2 separate regions of the Homo sapiens genome follow, and region 1 is linked to region 2. Evidence: fine-mapped expression QTL. A gene starts in region 2. The other region holds a variant in brackets. All regions are shown on one strand. Distances are between the middles of the regions.

Region 1 (8,473 bases), 360 kb before region 2:
TCTGAGCAAGATGAAAGTTTCTGAGAGAATAATCAAACACAACTGGAAAATACCATACCACAAACTTGGTGTCGTGATGACTTTACAATCTTTTATAACTATAAACCATTTAACGTTCTTCAATAAAAGCTTGGAAAAGGCCAAATAGCATGCAATTTTCTTTGGCAGAAAAAAAAAAGCCTGATTTAAGCACAGCGAAAAGGTTTGTATGGGTTCAAAAGGAGTGACAAAGACACTGCTTTTGCTGTCATTGGCCTGCTTTCAACTTTTATGTCCAAAACAAATGAATCTGGATGGAAGTAGTTAAAACAGCAAAGTGAGCTAGTTCAATTCTTTTAAAGATATTATTGCTACACTATCCTCCCCCATTTGTAATCTGTGTCAGGAGATAGAGACCACTTCAACTCAATGAGTCACTTCAACTTCCTAGCCAGAACAATTAAAATTCTTGTATAAAACAAGACCTGAAGCCTGCCCTTCACCACATCACCTCACCTCAAAAAGGCCCAAGGGTCACATCTGACATTTAACAGCTCACAAATTCAATTTTGTAACTAATGAAGCCAACTTAATGCTTTTACAAATGAATACTGGGTTATTGCAAATTTTCTTCTTCAACATTTGGGTAATATATAAAATGTATTGTCAGTTCAACTGCCAGCCTGAATAACATTATATATGCCTCTTCATCATGATGGCATGATGGAGATAGCATTTGTAAGCCAGTGGTAGGGAGAATTAGAAGAGGATAAGACAGTCTTCCATCCCTCACTCTCCTTTCTCCATGCACAGACCCCCCCAAGGAAAGAAAGTAAGGAAGAGGAAGCCTCAACAAATACAGCCCAGAAACACAGATGTACAGTTTGTCTAGCTAGTACTCCTGCTGACTAGATGAAGACGGCACTAGCCTCAAGGATTAACTGCACTGCCCTACAAGTTACTGAAACAGTTAATGCAATTTGCAGATTTGCGTCTTCTTTATTGCTAGCAGCTGAGCAGCTTTTTTCCTCCTCCTCCTTTCAGTTGTTATTGATGTCTTGCCATATTTTGCATACAATCCCCTAAACAGCATTAGCTCATTTTTACTCCAGTCTTGCAGATTACCTCATCTGGGTTATGTTCTTTGGTGCGTTGGTGTTGAGTGTTGAATATGTCTTAATTTTTCATTCTTAAAGGCATTCTCAACCATAATAGGTACTTAATAAGTTTGATCTTCTTTTACATCATGTGTTTGACCTGCCTATGAGAAGGACTCCCAGATTTTCATTTCTTCATTTGTTGGTATCTATAGTAGGTGGATTTATGTGGAAAGACAGAGGGAGTGTTATGTTACTTTCCTTTATTTCTCAGTTGTTTATGAAGCCCATCCTCTTCCTGGAATGTATATTTGACATGATTGCAATGAAGGTTCTATTTTCATCCAGCTTAAGATAACAAAGGGCTCTGCCACTTCATTTAAAAACAGATTTTTTTTCTAAGACATTTTTGATTACACTTTGTTCAATCATACTCTCTACATTTTCTACTCAGGACTCAGAACTCAGTTTTAAAGACAACCAAATTTAATTCAGATAAATTAACCACATGTACTTGGGAACATGCTATTCCCTCCCCCAACCCTTGTCACATGCATACCGTGTTCATGCAGTCTAATGCAAATTTAATTACCACTCCTTTTTCCCCACTATGCCAATTAAATCTTAGAGTCGAAAACATGCCAAAGGTCTTGTGCCATCCTGCTTCTGAGCTTTTTCCCTTAGGTACTTGAAGCACCATCTCTGGCTCTCTGTCACTGTCTCTATCTTTCTCTGTATGTATCTTCATCTCTGCCTCTGTGCCTTTATCTGTATCACCATCTACCTACCTACTTGCAGTATGAATGTATAAGCCTTTATGGTTTCCTAGCTACCTATAAGGGACTGGGCAAAAAAGATAAGAGAGGCTCAGTCCCTTTCCTTCAGAAGTCCATAGCTGAGTGTAGAAGAAAGAGATGTTTAAAAAGACACATTTCAGTTAAATGGAGTAAGAGGAGGAATAAACAAAGTGGCATGAAAGCTGCATGAAAGACTGATTAGCTTTGCTTGTGAATTGGGTTAGGTTTTACAGAGTGGATGAAATCTGCTGACAGATGAGTAGGAGTTTGCAAAACAGAAGTGGGGGTGGTGGTAGTAAAGGCAGAGAGAACAGTATGTGCAAAGGCATACTCAGTTAAATGTTTAGTGTGTTTTGGGAATGGCAAGGGAGCCAATGTGGCTGGAGTTTGGGTTGTGTGGGAAGGAATGGCAGAAACCCAGGCTACAGGGATGGAAAAGACCCATTAGGTCATAGTCCCTTTTCCCCATCTCTTCCTTCTCTCTCTTCAAGCCAAAGTATCCATGATGTTCTCATCCACGACTGGCCCAAGAAAATGTATTTAATCTCTTTGAACTAAAATAAAGGAGGTCAAGAATGGAGACAGACTAGAAGCCAGGTCACAACCTTTCTTCTCAATAGCAAAAAAACTCTTTGGTTTTGCATGTGAATGTCTTTGTGCTTTTTAAATTTGAGTTACTCAGTGTTTGGGTAATGTTCTATTTTTAATCTGTTTGCTAAAGTCAGCCATTCCTCATCCTTAAGACCATTTATCTAGATCTACAAAAGGATAAAATGTCATTTGATGTATCTTTATGAAATTGCAATTGACTTATTATTTGAGATTCAGAGCTGGCATTAACAGGAGTGATGAAAAACAAATTATTTACTGAGTCTTTCCTCTTTCCTCCCCACACACAGTCAAAACATTCTTCTCTCCCCCAGAGCAACCAAGCAAGCTCTATTATACCTCCACTAAGGGACGATTTAATTTCTTCTTCCATTTAGTCCAAGAATGACTGCATGCCTTTTAATTATAGGAGGTATTCCTTTGTAATGATGGCAGTAGAAATTGCATAACTATAACTTCAGATAATACTCATTAGATTTCTTATTTAGGAAAACTTCAAATTGTGCTGCAAGAGACAGCAAGAACTTAGTTCATGAGATCCTTTTACCAAAAGTACTAAAATCTTTAAAGAGCCAAGAGCGCTTTTTCCATTTGTAGATATTAAGTTAACCATTAAACAAGTATTGTGTTTTGCAAGATACCAAAAAAGGAAGGCCAAGTTGCGTTTGAGAATCACGTTAAAAGCCAAGATTAGAGCTAAAAGGTATGACGGTGTCCTAGGAATCATCTAGTAATATGGACGGAAACAAGAAATTTAAAAGGAATTTTTTAATTTGAATAGGCTGGCTGAAATGTCAAAAGTCGATATCAAAATACACTAAATGAAGTCTCATGCATATGGCATGAAGCACAATTCCTACTATAAAGCAATTCCAAGAAAATGTGATAAAATTAGAATATCATAAAAAATTAGAAATATAAATCAGAATATAGTTTTTAGTGAAAAATATTTCTATTTAACCTTATTTTTTCTAAACATTTAGAGAAATTGATTTTTTTCAGTATGACTTTTAAGGTGTTCTTATTCACAATCTTACTTAAAATTTAATATCAAATGCATTTTACAGCAAGATGATAAGTATCAAAATTAATTTTTATGATCTATAATTGCCTATTTTAAAACATGTGATGTACAAAGTGCAATTCATCATTATTAGTGTTCACACACAAATTATACTGTACAGTGAGACTATGTTTTAGTTATCTTTGTTCTTTTTCCCTTAGTGATTTTATGTAACTACATAATTAAAAAAAGAAAGAAACAAAGCATAATAGTCATTCATTATAAGCCCTTCATAAAGAGTGTAAAGGTTAATATATACTGTACATATATGTGTGTATGTAACAATCACTTTGTGCCAGGCATTTTGTCAATTGCATACATCCAATGTAAGCCTTAAAACAACTCCAGAAGAGAGGTAACATTAATCCAATTTTGCCGAAGAGAAAAAACATGAGTCAGAGAAAAGTTTTAAGTACCCAGCCTGAGTTCAAGGGGCCAGTAAGCAGCAAAGCTTGAATCTGACATGTCTGTTAAGGCTTACTTACATCCAAGCTCTTAGTCACTACTGTGTATAACCTTGCTGCCATTGAGGGAGTGGGTGTGTAATTCTTGGTTGACACACAAAGTGGTCCTGATTTATTTCTTATTTTGAAATAAAAATGGGCAATCTTTGGGTTATCAACAGTAGAAACTAATGTAGGGAGAAACATAAATATTCAAATTAATGGTCTGTAAATAGAATAATTTCTATCCTTAATTATTTCCTTTCAAAAAGGAAACACTGCTTACTATCTTCACAGTTTGTTCTAAGAAACTGGGAATTCAAAAGTTCTGTATGTTTTTTTAATCTACCTAATCAAAGTCATTCTTGCTGTCATTTGAATGTATATTCTTTTCCCTGCATCATTTTAAACAAGGAAGCCAGGAATAATTGCTACTTAACTGTCTATTCTACATGATTTATTTTAACTCTGAAGTCATTGCTTAATATTTTTTTCTGAAATTCTGATTTATATCATCAATTTTGAAAGAGAGAAGATCA[T/C]GAGACATGAAGAATTTTATAAACTCTTCAAAATATAATCTAGATGTGATGTGTGTTATTTGAGTGATGGATATTCTAACAGCCCTGACTTTACCACTATGCCACCTATACATGTAACAAAATTACACTTCTACCCCATAAATTAATGCAAATTATATACATACACACATGCACATATACACACACTATATATATGTATACAACCTGAAGAGTAAGGTGTTTAAAAATAAAAACTATTTTCTTAAAAATCTTATTAAAGTAGATTGCATATTTCCCTACTTTCAGAAATAAAACATTTTGAACATAATTGAATGCCTTCTGCATTCAGAGCCATTGCAATAATATTATACTATCATGATGTCAGCAGAAAGTTGACTGTCATGCTTTGATGGTCCTGGATTTTTGTACTTTTAAAATTTTAGTGTCTTTAAAAAAAATTTAGTTTTTCTGTTGTGTCACACTGTGAGGGTTCTGTCTTTCTGTCATTGAATGTTAAAAAGATGATAGTCCCAGTCCTATTTCCAAAAGCCCTACTTATTTTCTCTGCTTATGCATGAACAGATTATTGAAAAAAAGAAAAGGAATTAATCCTTAATAAGTACCTCTGGTGTGCTAGATATTGTGATAGATGCATAACTTGTGTTATTCCATATAGTCCTAATTACCCATTTGTGAAGTTAGAGTTATTAGCTCTAATTTTCACATAAGCAAACAGGTGCAGGTGGCTAAGTAACCTGTATATGCTTGTTTATGAGTCCGTGAGAAAGGTGTCCACAGCAAATGCTTATGTGTTTCTCTTGTATGTAAAGTGCACAAGTACTACTAAGTTGCACAAGACTTTCATTTCACATTCTTCATGCTTCTTCTGCTGTGACCCAGATGGGAGATGTTGTTGAACCATGCAGATGTTTCTCCCTAATGTGCTACCTGAAGCCCAAAAAAAACTTCTTATTTTTGAAATTGTTCCCTTTGTGAGAAAGTAGGGGTGGGGCAGTTAAAACCTGTGCACGTTTGTAAACAGATTATTAGCAAAAGCAATAATAATACTGATACAATATAAGCAAAGCTTAAAAGTATTTTGAATTTATACTAAATAAATACCATGGGAAATATCAGACAATACTTTAGAAATAAAGTAAAAGACAGCTTGCTGAAAGCAATACAAAGGAAGGCATTACAGGGCAGAAGGATGCTGAGTTATAGAGACAAGGGTCAATGAACAAAAAACAGGGAGAACTACTCAGAAAGCACAAAACGTACTGCCAAACTGAGCCAGTAGAAGGAACATGGGGTGACTGGGCATGGGGGACCATGCCATGTTCCTTCATGCGTTACCATATTCAGCTGGCTTGGTATACTTTGCATTCTGTTGCTGTGACTACTTGGCATAAAGTTGTAACATGTGAGGGGAAATTGTGTATGAACAGCAAGACTTCTATAGTATCCTGACATCATACCTTTACTTCCCAATAGGCTATCATTAATTTATGTGTCAGAAACATTTATTATACTAGAGTAGACTGTGTTGCCCTCATAGGTGAATGGTATGGCATTGTCTTTTTTGGTTATATTTTATAAAACATCTGGTAGTATGACTGTAGATTGTTAAAAATACACAAAGGCAAAGCCTTAGGAGAGTAAATCAATAAGTCCAATAATTAACAGAATATATGTTTTCTCAAACAATAGTTGGTATTGATTTATTTTTTTTTTTTTACTCCAAAGGGTTGATTTTTAAGAGTATTCCTAGGTATTGAAAGCAAACAATATGTGAACTCCCTATGCTTATTCCTTGGGTATAGGAATCAGTGTTCAGCATGGGCTGTTAACCAGGGACTTGGATGAAAACTGATGCCATTACTGAAGAAGCTGCACTGGCTCCATCATTCACTAAGTATTTACTTAGCATTCTCTTGCATTGAAGGCCTCTCTTCACTGACTCCAAATCTTGCCGCCTTGGCTGTAATCTTGCTGGTGCCATATTTTAGTGGGGTAATCAAATGCACCAGATAGAGAGGGACTCAATTATGTCCTACAATGTGAATGGTAAGAACATGGCTAGAATTTTTTAGGCTCTGTGATTTTAGACAAGTTATTTAATTTTTCTGAGTCTTACTTTCCTCAACTGCAATATGGAGATTAACAGTTCTCTTATAACTTCCTATGATTACCCTGAGGTTAATTTGTAAAAATGAATGTGAAGTGAAAAGATTCACAACTAAAACTTACTCAATAAAACGTGGTGGTGGTAATCACTACTACAACTACTGCTGCTACTACTACTACTACTAGAAGAATGGCTGATTGTTTCATGGATTTTGATATGTCAGCTATCACACCACATGCTTTCTGTTAGATACATTCCCTAAACTTTACTATGTATATCATGATTAGCTAAAGATGAATTGTTCAACTGGTTTATAAAACTGAGGTTATAACTTTATTTTAACAAATTTACTGAAAGAATTGCCAGGAACTTTTGATAAAGACTGCATAGAAATTAATAAAACCTCTTTCTTATTTTGAAGGAGCTGATGAATCAGTGGCAATACCCTGTAGACAGCAGTGTTGTAGAGTCACAGAAGTGAACGAGGTTACAAAAAATGCAAATTATAGTAGTTGACCAATCTGGGTTCAAAAGTCTGCTCCACTATTGACCTCTGCAGAAGCTGATTAACCCCCAGGCCTCCATTTCTTTATCCTCAGGTAACATGAACCTATCTTTGGATAATTAAAAATCAAGTATGTAAAAGGCAGGCACTGTTACAATGCCTGGTACACAAAGTTGTTCAATGGACAATGACAACAATTAGCTAAAGGACACAGTAGATAATTTTGATGGGGAGGGATTAAAGAAGGATTTATATACAGAAAAATGAAACTTAAATTGGGCCTTTAATGAAAGACCATTTTAATATCATTTGTCTAGTATATATTAATGTGTGTTTTTTTTCAGTGATTGATTTTGCATAATGTGCAATTGCTTAAAAGATCAAAAGTAAGTTCATCAGTCAGGTCAAAAATTCAGGGTTGATCTTAAGAAAAAATAAAAGAAAAATAATCAAATAAATATGAGATGTATAAGGAAAAAATTTAATTTTTTTTAAAATTTAAAATTTAAAATTTAAATTTTTATTTGAAGTGCACTTTAGGAGGCCTTAACTCCTACATGGAGGAGTTACTTCCTCAACTCACTAGGAAGCACGTGCTTGTCCTGCTCCCTGTGGCTCTGTTAAGAACAGCTAGACCTCGAGCACAGCTCTGCACTCTGTGGAAAAGAGACAGCACAACAGGAGTTCTGTGATTGATTTCTCCAATTTTTTTAAGGTAGAAAAAAAAAATGTTCTAAGACAGACACAGGGCTCAACAAGTTGAAATTGGGATTTATTCCCGGTATTACTTGGATTTTCAAGAATTTTTGGAAATCTTGCCTTTCGGCCACAGCTCTCCTCAGCATTATGAGTTATTTGCCAGATTCATTTCAAGCTCTTGAATTTACGGTTAAAAGAGAAATAAAAAGTCTTTCATTTGTTCCTAAGCTGTTTATTTTGCTTATAAAACCAATCATAACATCTACCCAATAAAAAGAGAAATGCATAAAAGTTATAACTCCAGAAAAGTTAACTGTTGAAGCCTGAAATTCCCCCAAGCAAAGCCAGAAGTCATTTTAATGAGACAGAATTTTCTCTTTGAACTTGGGAGGGCACACGAAACAAACTTGCTGAGAAAATTCTTCTTTTATCCTTCTCTAGAACTCTCCCCTTCAAGTCAGACTGTGGCTAAGCTTGGGATTGGAATTACTGGCCTAAGCAGGCAGAAACCTGGAAACAGTCTTCTACTGTTTTGTAGCACAAGAAAAACTGCTTAAAGGGCAGTGTGATGTGCATGGTACAGTATGGCACAGGACAGCCTGCTGCAGGGCGGTGCGTACTGTGGGTGTGCTATT
Region 2 (8,473 bases):
TCTCAGAATGACAGAACCTGGGGCTTCTCCATCAAGTCCTGCTCCCTTATTTCACAATTGGAGAAACGTGTCCAATGAGACTAAATGGCCTGTCTAATTTACATAGCTTGTCATCCCCGAGGCTGGAACAGGAACTCCTATCATTTCATTACTTCAACATTTTTTATATCTACCTATCTAATCTTCTCTTAAATGAATGTAGCAAAATACAGTAGATATTCTGACTGCATTCATAAGGAAATTACTCTTTTGGCTTTTATTTCTTTTCTTTGTAATAGACGTATGCAATGCAATGACTTCCCCTCATCTCATGGTAGGATTTGAACTTCCCTGCCCTCAAGGGCCCAAAACCTGATTAGGGGTTGCTGTTGATTCTTGCCCTGGATTTCAAAAGCCTGAAAATTTGTTATAGAAGAAAAAAGTAATAGGTTCTAGAGTACAGAGACAAATATGAAGATTGCAGGAGGGATTCCTCAGACTCATATAAGCACTGAGTGGAAGTTGAATAAGAAGTGTTTCCAGAGGGTAACTTAGGAATTTGAGAACTGGCCATAAGAGGTGTCCAAATGGAAGAAGACCCATTTCCCAGAAAAGAGGAGACAAATGGCAATGCAAAGAACATTGTTCTGGTGTCCAAGCATAAACACTGACCCTGTAGCCTGCACCCAAGGGAGGAAAGTTCACTGTCCTCCTCTAGGGCCTACATACTGCTTTGGTGTGTATCATGTTGACTGTTAATAATCCAGCAGAGTAATCACTATCCATTCTCCAAGGCTGCGTTTGGTCTGTGTTTGAGGAGCTCATGTATTCCCCTACCCCTACTGCCAATGCCATCTCAGTCCATCTCACAATGCCCCACGTGACCCATCTGCTCTAAAAAGAGAATGAGACCATGCACATCTAGTAGTAAGGTAAAGTAGAGGAATGACCCATATCTGTATCTGGAAAGACTGGACTGAAAAAGATTAAGGTCCCCAGAACTGAGGCAATGATTATGTTAAAGTTTATAATCTCATTTATAAAAAGTATAGTTTTGCTGTTTTGTAAGAATTCAGGACCTTTAAGTTTGTTTCTAGTTTTTCTTTCATGAATGGACAGGGGGAATGCATAAAAGAAATCATTTTATTTATCTATGACAAAATGTTAAATTACCTAAAGCTGAAGCTGAAGCATTTTGTGCAATGTGTATATATTGTTTATATATATATGTGTGTGTGTGTGTGTGTGTGTGTGTGTGTGTGTGTTTCTCTCTCTCTGAATGATGCAACAGATGAAAACTAACCAATAGAGAGGATATGGTTTGATGCTTAAGAATGAGCCAAACAACAAACGGGAAACTGTGTACTGTCTGCGTGACAAATGCAACTTCATTTAACTGTTATCATTTGAAAATACCAAGTATACTAATCTTGTTCATTGTTTTTGTTTCTTTTTTGAGACAGAGTCTTGCTCTGTCACCCAGGCTGGAGTTCAGTGGTGAGATCTTGGCTCACTGCAACCTCTGCCTCGGGGTTCAATCAATTATTGTGTCTCAGCCACCGGAGTAGCTGGGATTACAGGCATGCGCCATGATGCTCGGCTAAGTTTTTTTGTATTTTTAGTACAGATGGGGTTTCGCCATGTTGGCCAGGCTGGTCTTAAACTCCTGGCCTGAAGTGAACCGCCTGCCTTGGCCTCCCAAAGTGCTGGGATTACAGTAAGCCACTGCACCCAGGCAAAATATACTAATCTTAATGGCTGAACTTTCAATTGCTTTTCTGTTTTGAAAACTAAGTGTGGCCTAAAGCATTTCTCAACACACTGAAGAACAGTAAACTAAACTCCGACTTTGCCATTTATATCGTTAGATCCTAATTGATATTGAAACCCTGCAAAACAGGAGAACTTTTTCTTTTTCTTTTATTTTGTTTACTTGCTTTTTTAAGTTTAGAACTGAAGTTACCAAAAGGAGGTGCATATAGATTGGCAGAAAGCAAATGAGTAGCAACAAAAAATAATTAGGAGCTATATAAAGAGTAAAAGAATGTATGAATAGGAATCTTCCAGTGATAATATTCCCCCACCTTCAATAGGGCAAAAGATCCACCACAAAAGCAAATAGTCATCTTGAAACTTAATTACATTTCAAAGTAGTACAGTAACATGAAAGGAACAAAACATTTTTGTTCAACAGTTTGCCTACCAGATGGGATCTCTAAATATAGGTAATCTAAAACCTTTGCTTGTCCTATAAACAAATACAGATGAAAGGAATAGCAACAATAGCTAAGCATTTAAATCACTGGAAATAAAATAGCACTTTGGTTAAGTGTGGAAGAATCTGGCTCATTCTAATAATGAATCTGGGAAGGCTGGAGTTCTCAGTGAAATTCAGAATACAGAAGGTTGCTTCTGGTATTTACCACCTGCTTATCTACCTGTTTAAACTGGTAGAATAGTTGGAAGAACAAATCAGGAACTAATAGCAGTAGACTTGGGAAAAACTAAAGAAGCACAGGAACACCTAATAAATAGAGACTCTAAAGGGCCACAATACAAATTCCAGACTTTTGTTTTTGAAATAAGAGTTGCGACATGCCCTTGCTTCATTTCTGTGCACTCATGTGTAAATGTGGGTAATAGTTAAGAACCTATGCTCTGGAGTCAAGCCCAGCATGTGAATCCAGGTTCTACAATTGACTGGCACTATGACTTTGAGCCAGGTTCCTTACCTCTTTGAGCCTCATTGACAAAAGCAGATAGTAATAGTACTGAGTTTTATTGGAATTAATTTATGACAGTTTTTGGCACCTACTGAATCCCATGAATATTAGTTGCTTATTATTATTAATAATCATTACTCTTAAATAATTATATTCTGATTTTTTGCTGTCTCAAAAGCGTGGGGTGGTGTACAGTAAGATTTTCAGGTAGTAAATGGAGTTCTAAGAGTAGAACTTAAAGCCTTCCCTGTATATCTCCAAGTGGTCTTTCCTAGTAGCACTGCCCTCTTCTCACCTGGCTAGGGAAGGTTATCTAGAACTCATACGGGGAAGGCAGGTCAAAAGACAGAGGTTTTTCTTTTAAGAATTGGCTATCAGAGCTCAGCCTACCCTAGTTTGTCCTCCTCAGGGACTTCACTTATACAACTCTCTGCTGCAGATCTATGGGCTTTGGAGAAATGACTCAGAATTTCTTTTTGATTTGGTTAACTAATGGCATGTAGGACCATTCTTGTTGATGGTATTGTTATTAATATAACACCATGATAGCTTAGAGCTGATTTTGGCAACTAATGTTGATAGTAAACAGTTTACTTACCTGTAAGTAGGGTGATTACCTGGAACAAATAAAAGGTAAGTTGTAATTGCTAAAATGTAATGCAGACTACAATGAATGGAAGGCCAGTGTTTAATGGTACTTAAGCTTTTACTGGGTTATTTTGTTGAATTTTACATGAGGCAAGAGCAACCTGCTGGGGCCACTGCCTTCAGTATTAAAAGATACCTATGTTTTGGACTTTATACAGGAAATAATTCCATTTCTTAGTATTTTTAAAATTATGGTAAAATACACATAAAATTTACTAGGTGTATAGTTCACTGGCAGTTATTAACACTGTTGTACAACCATCATCACTGTCCATTTTTAAAAATGTTTCACTATCTAAGCAGAAACTCTTGTACTCATTAAACAACAACCTCCCAACTCCCTCTTCCCTTAGTCCCTGGTAACCTCTAATTTCACTTTCTGTCCCTATGCATTTGCCAATTCTAGATATCTCATGTAAGTGGAATCATACAATTATTTGTCCTTTTGTGTCTGGCTTCACTCGGCATAATGTTTTCAAGGTTCATCCATGTTGTAGCATGTATCCGAATCACATTCTTTTTACAGGCTGAATAATATTCCATTCCAATATGTACATAGCACATTTGGTTTATCTCTCCATCTGTAGATGAACATTTGAGTTGTTTCCACTTTTTGGTACTTGTGAATAATGCTGCTACAGAACACTGAAGTACAAGTATTTGTTTGAGTCCCTGCTTTCATCTCTTTTGGGTATATACCTAGAAGTGGAACTGCTAGTACCTATGCTAAGTCAATGTTTAACTTGTTGAGGAGCCACCAAATTATTTCTATTGCCGCAACATCATTTTACATTCTGATCAGCTATGCACAAGGTTTCTAATTTCTACACATCTTTACTAATACTTATTTTCTGTTTTTTTGATAAGAGCCATTCTAATGGGTATATAAAGCAGAATCTCATTAAATTAGATTTGCTTTGTAAACTATTTATTAAAAATAAGAGACACGAAGAGAACTTATTATTATATGCTTCGCTTACCCTGTATATCAAGAGCTGCAAACATCCTGTGCGAGTCCCAAAGTGAAAGGTAAAATATGGTTCTATTAAATTTTAAACATAGTAACACGAATATTTCTCCAAATAAGGTAATCTTGAGTTTTGGGATTGCATTTAAAATTCCTACAGCAAATGCTCAGGATATAAACATATCCATTAGTCATTACAGAAGTCCACACGAGGCTGACACACGTAGAATACCATTATTAGCAAAACTAAACTCAGTACAGTTACAACTGCCTCAAACTTGACCCCAAAGTATTGAAAGCTCCTCAGAGAGCGGGCCAGCAGCGCTGCGCATGCGCGCTCCCGGGCGTGCTCCCGCGCGTGCCTGCGTATTTGCGTGCGCGGCCCCGCGCGGCAACGCAGGGGCGGAACCGCATGACTGGCAGTGGCATCAGCGATGGCGGCTGCGTCGGGGTCGGTTCTGCAGCGCTGTATCGTGTCGCCGGCAGGGAGGCATAGCGCCTCTCTGATCTTCCTGCATGGCTCAGGTGGATTTCAATTTTACGTCCTGGTTTTCTACAGCTCGGGAAACATCCTCCCCTCGGTTACCCCAGTATTGCCCAAGTGGAGGTGTCGCCGGGCCCAAATAGGGCCCAGTGGGTGGCTCCCCCGTCGCCAGCCCCGGCTGTAGATGCACGGGCAGCGCCACCTGCCCCCAGCCTCCCCCGTTAGTCTTCCTCTTTCTATCGGGCGGTCACTGGTCCACCACCCTCGCTTTGGGGCCTTGTGTCCCGCCGCTCAGCCAGCCCTCCATCCCCACAACACACCTCCCCATTCCTCGCCCCAAGTTTAAACAGAGCAAGTTAGTAAGGTAAGTCTTCTGCTAGAGGGAAATTATTTAGTGTTTTTCATTATCAGCTACTAGTGATTTTTCAGTCGTAATTGCCCATTGCTTTTTCCAGGCTCCCATACTAATGTAGACAATTGAGATTCACAGTTAACTTAGATACTGTTTACAGATTATCTCTTTTCTGTAAGCCACTGTGCCATGGCTGGAGTGCTTTCTCTCACTTTCCTTTTTGCTGCTTCTCTTTCCTTCCTTTCCCTTTCCCGCCTGTGTCATTAAACTTCCAAGATAGACTACAGGGGCAGGACCCCCAGGGACAGGCATCTTCCACTACCTGCCCTTAGTAACGTGTGCTTAATGCTGTATCGTTACTTAACACTCATCTGTAATCACTTTTGTCTGTCTTCCCCACTGGATTGTGAACTTCCCACTGGATTATGAGAGTAAGGGCCCTTGTGTCAACCTTTGCACCCCCAGTGCTTGGCCCAGGGTAAGCTCTCAGGAAATGTTTTTTAAAGAAATGAGATGCAGCCGGTGTCCTCAGGGGGCCTACCTAAAGTTAAAAACAAAAACAATCCAATTAGTTTGAGTCAGCAGTGCATGGAAGATCACAAGACGGTGCATGGTTTCCTGCCAAGTGAATTGTAAGAGAAAAAAATGTGGTTAGGCATTATTAAGGCATTTGGAAGATGAAAAGCTTGTCAGACTTTTCGAAGAAAGTGGTCTTTGAGCCGAGACGGGTAGGCTTAAATGGGACGGTGATTGGAAGGGAATTGGAAAGGTACTGGGCAGAGACCTGGAAAAGGGCAATTGTGGGAGGTATTCTCTTTATTTTGAAAATGAGGCCAGACAGGTTCAGCAGCTTGGCCAAGGTCTCTTAGCTGTTACTGTGAGTAGTGGCGGATTTGGGATTAGAACCCAAAGCTCTCCGACCTCAAACTCAGGGCTTTGGTGGGGTAAGGTGAAAAAGTTTGAACTAGGATATATTGTTTTGGAGATAGGGAAGAAGAGGTCCAATAGTGTTTAAAGGGAAAGACGGCATATATTTAGAAGGTGACGTGTGTAAGATGACAGCGGTACTTAATAACTAGGAGACTGGTAGTACTATTTAGGGCTCCAAGAGTGTTCATTTATAAGTACCCAGAAATTCCCCAACACTGTACCCTTTCTCATAATCAATTCTCATTATCTTTAGGAAGAACTCCTAGACTATGTTCTTTTTTCCCCTGGACCTCTTTGCTTAAAATAATTATCCTTTTTTTGAATTTCAGATTACATTTTTATAACCTGTAAGGGTATGTCTCTAAAATTCAGAGTCATGTATGTATGTATTTTTTCCTTTGTACTTTGAACCAAGAATTTATTCAAAGAATTCTGCCAAGTATGCGAGTATAATGTGATTCCTATATATTTAAATCTCCACTGAAGTAAATAAAACCTTATTGGGAGTAGGTCTTTATCATCTTTATCGTTGGGAGTAGGTCTTTATCATCCAGTAGGTCTTTAGCAGCTAGTGATTTTACATTCAACTTTAATGTATGTGGTTATGTTATAGGAGATGTTTGGTTTCTGCTTAACTAGAATATGGGCAAACCAATTCTGTTTTATCACACTCAGTTTTGCCATACTGTTAACCAGTTTTAACACTTTTACTATGGAATAAAGTACTAGCTTTTTAAAAAGTGGACATTGGGAATGGATAGATGTTGTTTTGCAGCTGCATTCTTACTCTTCGAGGCTGAAAAAATGTTGTTAAAGACAGATTTTGTGTTTTCAAATAAAAAACCTTAAAAGCTTGAGATTTTCTTCTAGGAGATAGCAGCCATAGAAGAACATATGGGAGTGTAAATTATATGTAGCCAACTTAATTTGAGCCTTTTCTATTAATAAAGTACTAAAGACGGACCTTCTTTTAAGATGATAAAAATAAATGATAGGTTAATGAGTTTTGTTCAGTCTCTCAGATCAGATTAATTCACTCTTATTTGCTCCCATAGGACACTGGTTCTTCTTTCAGTGGTAGTCATCATACTTGTAATTATGTAATGTAATGTCTGTATTCCACACTAAGCTAGTAGGTCCACAAAGCCCAAACCATGTGTCTTGTTTATGGCTTTCTTCTTGTGTGGTAAGGCTCAGCAAGTTGACTGAGTAGCTTCTTGGTAAAGTCACCAGTAAGCTCAGGCTCTATGTCGCTCAATGTAATGGACATTTTCAGTCGTCCTCTTACGTGAACTGTCATCTGCATTCAGCTTTCTTCTCAAAAAACTCTCCTGGTTCTTTTTCTGTCTTGATTTGCTCCTTCTGGTTTCTTTTGCAGACTCATCCTCCTCTACCTGGCCATTAATGATGGGGTTTCTCTAAATTTGGTCCAAGGTCTTTTCACTCTACATTTTTCTCCCTAGGCTAATCACAGAAGTCTCCTAGAGATACCCATTTGTGTCACTGGTGTATAGGTAAAAATAGAACCTTTGAATTTCTGTGGAGATTCATAGATTCTATTTTTGAGCTCTAGACAAGTTCATCTAACTGCCTGATAGACATTCATTCATGAATCCATTCATTCAAGAAATATATCACAGCCTCCATGTGTAAGGCACTGTTCTGTGCTCTGATCATACAGCAATGAAAAAAACAAATCACTGCTCTCATGGAGCTTATGTTCTAATGAAGTAAATAAATACTATAGTAGAAGGTAGTAAGTTTTATGGAAACAAGGAAAGCAGGATAAGGGGATTCTTCCATGGATGAGAAGTTGGAACAGTGTTACAATTTTAAATAAAGTAGTCAGGTTATGCCTCACTGCAAAGATGACAGAAGATGAAACTTCACAGCTAGACTTAGACTTGGCTTTAAAGCCAAGTCGGAGGCTCCAGGGTAGGGTCCTTGACATGTTCAAGGAACAGCAGTAAGGCTAGTGTGTCTGGAGTGAGAAGAATAGGAAGGGATATCCAAGAGGGTACTGGCATCCAGGTAGTGTAGGGCAGGGGTTGGCAAACTTTCTGCAAAAAGTCAGGTAAGCATTTTAGCTTTTGTGGGCCATGTAAGGTCTCTTCCCCATAGTTTTCCCTTCTCTCTCTTTTTGAGAAAGGAGTCTTTAATAATGTAAAACTCATTCTTAGCTTATCCTCCTTAAGGACCCTAGGCTGGATTTTGTCCTCCCCTCTAGCTGTCCATAGTTGCTCAATCAACCCATGGTATAAGACCTTGTATGCATTACAAAGAGGCACCTCACACTCAACCTGTGTATGCCTGTTGCTTATGTTTCCTGTCTAGGCAGGTGTCTAGTATTGTTCACCCAGTTACTCCGGCCAAAAGCCTGTTAGTCATCC

Which allele goes with the higher level. Alleles are on the strand shown, and positions count from the first base shown. SD is a standard deviation of normalised expression in the study named.
For the expression in putamen of the gene that starts at base 4,649 in region 2, allele T in region 1 goes with a higher level than allele C (large effect, 1.4 SD a copy in GTEx).

What was found.
Region 1: its variant is fine-mapped to the expression of LYPLAL1-DT in putamen (GTEx, PIP above 0.99).

What each region holds. Positions count from the first base shown.
Region 1 is chr1:218,809,449-218,817,921 of GRCh38, forward strand. No RefSeq gene overlaps it. Among named protein-coding and RNA genes, the nearest start is that of LINC01710, 100 kb to the right of the region's middle. The variant T/C (reference allele first, on the strand shown) is at 4,528.
Region 2 is chr1:219,169,140-219,177,612 of GRCh38, forward strand. It overlaps LYPLAL1-DT (LYPLAL1 divergent transcript), which reads right to left and starts at 4,649. Exons shown (of 5, transcript NR_038845.1): 1 at 4,331-4,649. It overlaps LYPLAL1 (lysophospholipase like 1), which reads left to right and starts at 4,739. Exons shown (of 5, transcript NM_138794.5): 1 at 4,739-4,842. The coding sequence starts at 4,752. RefSeq lists enhancers at 4,570-4,619, 4,700-5,029, 8,424-8,473.